Homo sapiens: one gene and its partner. The protein of the gene in region 2 purifies or fractionates together with the protein of the main gene of each other region. This does not show direct contact. Each region holds a gene or a part of one and is shown on either strand. Other genes may lie near its edges.

What was found.
Region 1: the proteins of TCP11L2 (region 2) and TUBAL3 purify together in Homo sapiens (affinity purification with mass spectrometry; one large-scale study listed by BioGRID and IntAct). This does not show direct contact.

What each region holds. Positions count from the first base shown.
Region 1 is NC_000010.11:5,398,314-5,402,127, forward strand, and holds part of TUBAL3 (tubulin alpha chain-like 3), read right to left. Parts: intron 2,775-3,814; coding exon 2,531-2,774; intron 1-2,530. UniProt on the Homo sapiens protein: Tubulin is the major constituent of microtubules, a cylinder consisting of laterally associated linear protofilaments composed of alpha- and beta-tubulin heterodimers.
Region 2 is NC_000012.12:106,301,307-106,305,840, forward strand, and holds the start of TCP11L2 (T-complex protein 11-like protein 2), read left to right. Parts: upstream 1-1,426; 5' UTR 1,427-1,635; exon of another isoform or gene 1,636-2,925; intron 2,926-4,534. UniProt on the Homo sapiens protein: Promotes the migration of muscle-derived satellite cells (MDSCs) during differentiation throught interaction with FMNL2 and therefore may participate in microfilament assembly.

The DNA of each region.
Region 1 (3,814 bases), on a different chromosome or scaffold from region 2:
GGAGGCTGAGGCAGGGGAATTGCTTGAACCCGGGAGGCACAGGTTGCAGTGAGCAGCGATAGTGCCATTGAACTCCAGCCTGGGCAAAAAGAGCAAAACTCTGTCTCAAAAAAAAAAAAAAAAAAAAAAAAAAAACTTATCCACATGTAGTGACATGTGCCTGTAGTCCAAGCTACTCAGGACCCCAAAGTGGGAAGACTGCTTGAGCCCAGGAGTTCACTGAGCTATGATTACGCCACTGCACTCCAGCCTGGGTGACAGAACAAGACCCAGTCTCTCTCGCTCTAAAAAACAAACAAACAAACAAACATATTGGATGACTCCCCGGTTATTCATTCCTTCTGCCTTGCAGAGCAAGCTTGTCCATCCCGCAGCCCAGGATGGCTTTGAATGCATTCCCACGCAAATTGGTAAACGTTCTTAAAACATTATGAGATCGTTTTGCAATATTTTTTTTTGGTTCATCAGCTGTTGTTAGTGTGAGTATATTTTATGTGTGGCCCAAGATAATTCTTCTTCTTCCAATGTGTCCCAGGGAGGTCAAATTATTGGACACACTTGTTGTAGAAATGTCTATTAAGTTGTATCATATACAATACAATTAACTTTTTTAGATTAAAAAATAGTCATATACTGGCAATTTTATATGGCTCAATTTCAACAGTGTTGTTATAACTATTTATTTTTTCTTATTCACTAGATTAGGCTACTTTCCTGTTAAAAGACAATAGATTTAATAAGAAGGCAAACCTAGGACCAAACCCAGCTCTACTCTAATAACTCAGTGATCTTAAGCAAGTTCCTTGACTTCCCCAAGATTTATAAAGTTCCTCATCTATAAATTGAGGATGATAATAATGTCTCCTGACAGAGTGTTGAAAGAATTAGAGGAAAATACCTGTGCAGTTCCCCAACTAGTAAACAATAGCTGCTGTGGACTAAATGGCTGTGTCCCCCCACAATTCATGCGTTGAATCCCTAATCCCTGATGTGATGGTATCTGGAGGTGAGTCTTTGTGAGTAATTAGGTCATAAGGGTAGAGACTTCATTATGGGATTAGGGCCCTTATAAGAAGAGACACAGACTATTTCTCTGCCATATGAGAATACAGTGAGAAGGCAGCCATCTGCAAGCTGGGAAGAGAGCCTTCACCAGAAGCCAACCACCAGGCACCCTGGTCTCAGACTTCCAGCCTCCAGAATCGTGAGAAATCAACAACTGTTGTCTAAGCCACCGGGTCCATGGTGTTCCAATACAGCAGTCCGAGTTGACCAAGACAGGCATCTTCACGTCGAAGGCAAAAATCAACATTTATTCATCTTTGTACTTCTATCACCCAGCTGAAGTGTTTATGGGGTTGTATTCAATTCCTTCTTATCATGACCTTGAATTCGTCAGCCTCTCCTTTTCTCCACCCCTCCCACTCTCTCAGTCAACAGCCAGCACCAAGGGGCAGCGATGTAAATGAGTGACTTTCAAAGTGGATGCCCCAGTTCCCACTTGAGCCTTCCAAGCTGGTACCACATGGAGCACAGGCGAGCTGTCACCTCTGAGCCCCACCCAAACTGTAGATTCATGAACAAACCAGCAATCATTATTGCCTTAAACCACTAAATGTAGGGGAAGTTTATTACACGCCAACAAATAATGGGATGCACAACATCAAACCCAAATCTACCCCACTGTCTAGCTTTTCTCTTAAGTCAGTAAGAGCCCCTTCTCTCTCCTTTATTTTTCTAGCTCCATTTCAAGAGTTTTTGCATGACATACTACAAGTCTATTGTTAGTAATCATAAAATTGTACTGTTTTTCCCATAACTAGGGTATATATTTGGCCTCTTTTTCCTTTAGGATTCTTTTCAAATATTCTACTCTTTTTAAGCAGCTATCGAAAAACTTTTTGATTCTTTGCCAGTGCCTTCTAGCAAATGGCTCTCAAACCCAGGAAAAGACTTAGTGTTCTATTATGATATATGTGTGGATCAATTAGCAGGTCTTAATTCATTTCATCACACAGGTAAAGAAGGCTAACCTAGGCCAAGTGTGGTGGCTCACGCCTGTAATCCCAGCACTTTGGGAGACTAAGGCAGGTGGGTCACTTGAGGTCGGGAGTTCAAGACCAGTCTGGCCAACATAGTGAAACTCCATCTCTACTAAAAATACAAAAATTAACCAGGCATGATGGTGTGTGCCTGTAATCCCAGCTACTCAGAGGCTGAGGCAGGAGAATTGCTTGAACCCAGGAGACGGAGGTTGCAGTGAGCCCAGATCACGCTACTGCACTCCTGCCTGAGTGACTCATCTCAAAATAAATAAATAAATAAATTTAAATTCAAAAACACTAATCTGGTCTTCCCTTTGGGTGTGTTTGTCATGTTAATCACCCATGGCCACTGAGTAAGCCTCTACATTTGGGAAAGGTCCATGTGATTCCATTCAGATAGACCTGTATAATCTGCTAATCCCATCCACTTGATTTGTTTGAGTGTGGCTCCAGTTAAGTATGCTAGAATGGAACATTTATTGTACCTATAACAGTTGGCTCCAAGTCCACGAAGAGTGCTCTAGGCACATGCTTCCCAGCTCTTGTCTCACAGAAGAAGGTATCGAAAGATGCATTTGTGTGCTCCATTTTTGCATTTTCCAGCTGATCCTGTTGAGTGTCAAGAACAACGCCATTTGGCTGGATTCCATGTTCCAGGCAATAGAGTTCCCAGCAGGCGTCCCCAATCTGGATGCCAGCTTGACCGATGTGGATGGAAAGGCACTCCCTCTAAAATAAGTCATGGTGAGTTGGAACTGAGCAGGTGTTTAGAAAACAGGAGATCTGTTACTCAGCCCTTCTGGTTACAAATGACAGAAACCAAGCTAGCTTAAGGCCACGGAGGAATGTGTTATAAGGATAATCAAAAGCGTTTCATGGAAACCAAGACCCAGGGTACAGCTAAGCTTCAGGGAAAATTAAACCTGGGATTTAAATTCCATTAAAAAGTTTATTTTAACAACATAAATTAAGCACCTACTCTGTACTTGGCTAAGAATTGAATTAAGACAAACACACACAATGCAAATCAAAATACAACTAATTTTACTTTATTCTTTCAATATAGGTGAGATGTGTGTGTGTGTGTGTGTGTGTGCGTGTAGTTATATATATCAAGTGGGCTTGTCTAGAAATAAAATTAGCTAGTTATTGGAAAGAAATAAAACTAAAATCAATATATAGCCTTGTCAAGTACTAAAACTCATCGCAGATAAATTTAAAATGTTATCTTTACCATTCATATGCACTCTGAATAAGGATGGATATACTAAACTTAAAACTAGTGGGAAATTTTACAAGGCAAAATGCAATAGATTTAACAGTTCCAAAATGTAAAAGTTTTATAACAAACATATAGAGATAAAAATTGATTTTATATACATCAACTTTCTAAAAAAAAACACTTAAGACATCCACTAGCTAGGCAAATGATATAAACAAACAAATTACAAAAGAAAGACTCTAAAATGCAAGGATGTAGGCTGATGGCATTCACAAGCATCACAATTCATAAGCATGAAAACCAAAAACCAATCTATTTAATCTAACCATTTATATATTGTTGAGCATTTAAAGGATGTTACATCAACACAATGACATGTTATGCAACCCTTAAACGTTTTCCCAAAAAAAAAAGATTTATGACATGGGAAATGCTTATGATAACATATTAAGTAAAAAGCACATAAGATGCATGATTGCATATAGAGTATGATGTCCAATATGTTCAAAAATAGGCATAAAAATCTAAAAGAAAATGCATCAAGATA
Region 2 (4,534 bases):
AAGTTTGGCCACAGTGGTTTGCCAAAGAATTTCAATAACTAATACTTAGAGTGCTTACTGTGCACCCTGCTAAGCACTTCACATGCTTTATTTCACTTTATCCTCAAAATAACCCAAGGAAATAGCTATCATTGTTATCCCCAGAGACCAAGATCTCATGGATAGTGAATGTCAGAGCCAGGACTGGAACCATAGAGGAGTCTGTGTTGTAACCACTGAACAACTGACTTTCTACCCTGCTTTAAAATGTTGCCTGTTGTTTGTTGTTGTTGTTTTTGAACGGTGGTGGCCAATCTGCCTCCACAATCCAGACATAATTTCGGCACTAAACAGAAATACTTTAGTCTATACAAACTTCATGTAAGTAGTTCCTGCATGAAACTATTTCCCAAGTAATACAGCACCGATTTACACCTGGCAGAAGGCATAGTTTTGATGTGAACAGTTGGGGGAAGCTTGTTTCTCTACACCCTCAAGCACGCCCACAGCAGGAGCTGAGCAGCAGGCCAGACGGCACAGAGCCCTCCTGGGACTGGTTATTTACATTAACCAAGGTGGAAACTTCTCCCGGAGATAGGTGCTGCCAAGAACCCTAGAGGAAGTAAGACGCTTTATCTTTTGCACGCACGCCAAGTCTTCAGAGGGCCTGGATGGGTGTGACTCCAAGGAGCTAATCGTCCCGTGCAGGTGCAAATCTAGACCCGTGTTTATGTGGAGGTGTAGACGCAACTGGAGATGACCCGGTTAGTGGCTGACGTGCGTGGGAAAGCCCACCAGCAGCGTTGTTGGTTGGGTTGTCTCTGTAAGTGTGGACAGTGTGTTGGTGGGCACCCAGTTCCGATTGCCCCGTCTAGACAGGGGTGTGCGGGCACTCAATGTTCCACGCGCGGCCGGGAGCTCGCAGTGTGGTCCACGCCAGTGCGCCTGGAAGCCCAGGGGATCTGTCCGGCACTCCACTGGAGGCTTGGCCCGCGGCTTCGCCCACCTCCCCAGAGCCCCGCTCAGCCCCCGCTCCCCCCGCTCAGCCCCCGCTCAGCCCCCGCTCAGCCCCCGCTCAGCCCCCGCTCAGCCCCCGCTCAGCCCCCGCTCAGCCCCCGCTCAGCCCCCGCTCCCCCACTCGGCCCCGCCCCCAGTGCCCTGGCAGGCCCCGCCCCCAACGCCGGGCGCTCCCGTCGGCTCGGCGGCCTCAGTTCCGTAAACACTTCTCACCCCGCCCCCGGCAGCCCGGACCGCACCACTCGCCGCGCGGGGGAACCGTGCCCTCTCGCATCCGAAACACCCTCCCATCCGAGCTGTTCTCGGCCTCTCTGGTTCAAACTGACGAAGACTGTTTCTCTAATAGGTTCAGTCTGTGAGCGCTCGGCTTTCGGAGACTGAAGGGCCCTGGATCCCCTTGCCCCGTCGCGCCGTCGTCCCCCCGCTATCCGGTTTTGTGATGGCCGCGCCGTGGCTGCCTCCCTAGAGTCCCTCAGGGCCCTTTAAATACCGCGTTGGGGGGGACACTGGGGCTGGGGGGGTTTGTTGGGCTGGTGAGTTTTCGAGGTGACTGTGCTGTGCTCGGTGAGGGGACGCCCAGAGAGCCCTGACCCGGGGTCACTCCGTCGCCGTTCTCCTCTTGTCTACGTGCTGGACCCGGTGCGTATCCATCACGGGGGAGGCGTTGCCGGCTCGGAGGTGACCGGCCAGGTCCAACGGAGGGGACACCGCTGCAGCCCGAAGGCTCCCCTGCCCTATCTCGGAACTCCATCCTGGGAAGGCGGGGTCAGGGGCCATCAAGCTCGGCTCCTAGTTCATGTCTTCCCACTCCGCGTCCCCTTGTTTGACCTCGAACTGCCGTCCCGCGTGGGAGCGGGGAGCGGGGCACCGAGTGGCCGCCCCGCGTGTCGGGGTGGACACGGACTTCGGGCCTCGGAGGCCGCTTCGCCGCTGTTTAAATCCTGCTGGACAGGTACCAGCGGCATCCCGCCATCAGGGGCCCAGGGCACCCCCTTCCCCCACACTCCTCGGCCGGGCTGGAGTAGGGAACTGAGCCAGGGTAGAGGCAGGGCGGGCCCGGCAGCGTGTGTTTGGGATTTGTTGCCGTGGTTTCCCCGGCACTCAGCTCTGCCTCCGCCGTCCCCTCCCCCAAGGGTTTGTTTTGACAGGAAACCTGGTGCTGCTGGAGGGGAGGGGCGGCCAGAGGACGTGGGTGAGGTCGTGCAGACTGCTGCTGCGTCCCCTTGCCGGGACCTTTGGTTAAGGGGAAGAGGTGGAGAAAAGCCGATTGGGCCTGGGCTCGAACGCTGAACCCTCAGGTGTTGCTTGTGCTTCCCAAAGCTGCTACTGTAGGTGGCACCACTGGGGGTAATAGCAATGATTTGAGGTGGCATATGGATGAACATAGTTACTTGTTTTCGTTACTATTAAGAAAATCTGTTCCATTAAGTAAGCAGTTTCACAATGATAGAGTTTCCTTTTAAAATAAATATATTTAAATGCAAAAATCTAGTCAAGATAGAGACGCGGTTACTAAATTATAGTAAAGGTAAGGAGGGAGACGTAGAAATAGTCATGAAGAGTGGCACTCAAACGACTTAAGTTTGGGAAATCTTAGATGGTTGTCCTGCTACCTTAACTGTGAAGAAACTGGACAAGTTGTCCTTGTCCCCAGTGGGTGTCTCAGCACCCATGGTCACCAGCCCAGTCAGGGACTTTGCTCTTCTTACCTGCCAACGGATAATGAGTTAATCTCAGTGGTTCCCACTTGAGGAGGCTCCCTGCCGTGGTCCTTTTCCTCTCTTCTCTAGGGATTTCATGCATCACCCTGACAGCCAGTGGAAGTTGCCTGATTTGAAGAGGCCCAGGGCCGAAGATACCCAGTCATGTGTGGAAGCAGCTTCAATGCCATTTTGTGAGAGGTTGAGGGCCCCAGAGGGGGAAGCACAGGTATTAAAACAAAACAGACCAGCAAGTGTGGGAGGAGTGCTTTCAAATGTGAAAAGTGCCAGGAATCCTTCTCCCTGATGCTGTAATGCCACGTGTAACGTGAACATCTGCTTTGTGGACAGTGACTGGCTTGTTGGCTTTTATCTAGCTCTTTGTTGGTTCTAACTTGATGAAGACCAGTATTGTCTAGATGAATGGTATGGGCCCCTATCCCTCTGCTCTATGGTTTTTGCTTTGCTGTGGATGAATAACTTTAGTGCTGCTATTTAAGACTGATTCTAAAGCAGCATTTTGCAGAAGATGGAAATTTTTCACATCATCTGCAATTTTTTTCTTTAGAGCCCAGACTTAGTCCTCTGACTCCCTTCCCTTTACTACACATATGTGAAGGCTTGTCCTTGCAGCTGACCTCGATCTAGTGTTGAAGGATGGTACACACTAGAAGTTTCTTGAAATTTCTTTTTTGCGTGAGCTAACCTTAACTGGATGGGTTCAATTCCTCAAGGCCCTGCTGGGTAATCTGAATATTTCACTCCAAAATGTTTATGACTGTAAGCAGTTAACCTTTTTGCTAATACGTGGGGTCTAACTAGGGATTTTGCGGTGCATAAAGAATGGCTCCCTCCTAGAGGATTTTCTGTCACTGTAGCGGGGTGGTGAAGAATTGTTTTGGGTGACGTACTCCTTCAGTGATGCCCTTCACAGAATAGCACTTGAGCAGCCATACCAGGATAAGATCAGCTTGCTACCACATGTGCAAGTGTCCACAGGGTGATGGGTAGATGGATTTGGCAGAGTGGGAGTGGAAAGAATGAGCAGCACACCAAATTTTCTCCAGCCAAACTGGAGTGGTAGAGAGCATGGGTTTTAGGGATCCGCTTCCTGGATTTGAGTTGTGCCTCTACACTGCTGTGAACCCTTGGGCAAGTAACGCAACCTCTCTGGGCCTCAGGATCTTATTATAAAATGGGGATAATACTGATACATTAGCTAACAAGGTTATAATAAGGATTCAAGGAGATAAAATATATAAAGAACTTATCATAGAACAGTTATTGAGTGCTTATTACTACCTCAATAATAAGCACTCAATTACTGTTAGCTGTAATTGTTGTTATTTGCTACACGTGAGTTTCTTTAACCTCCTGGAACTGTGGGTCTTTGCTAGTTTGAATTTTTGGTGCCTTGCAAATGCACTGAAGTAGGCACTGGGAATTGGAGAGGAGAGTCATCGCTTCCACCAGCAGCTTAAAATCTAGTGGGAGACAGATATGCACACAAGTGTAGTACTGTAAGTGACTGCGTAATGGGAATATGAGTAATGTGAGTGAGGCAGAAAAGAAGGAAAACTCAAGGTGTCTTATGAATAGGAGTGTGGCGTAATTAGTTCATGCAGCTGTACTCACTGAGCTCCTGCTCTAGCCCTAGCGGTGTTCTAAGCTCTAGCTGGCTCATTAGATGCAGTGAGTGTAGCAATCAGGGAAGGTTACCTCGTAGTTGGTGACATTAAATTTCAAATCTGAATGACAATAGGGAGCCAACCACAAGGAGATCAGGGAGAGGAACATTTCAGGGGCAGAGAACAGCAGGTATGAGTGCCCCGAAATAG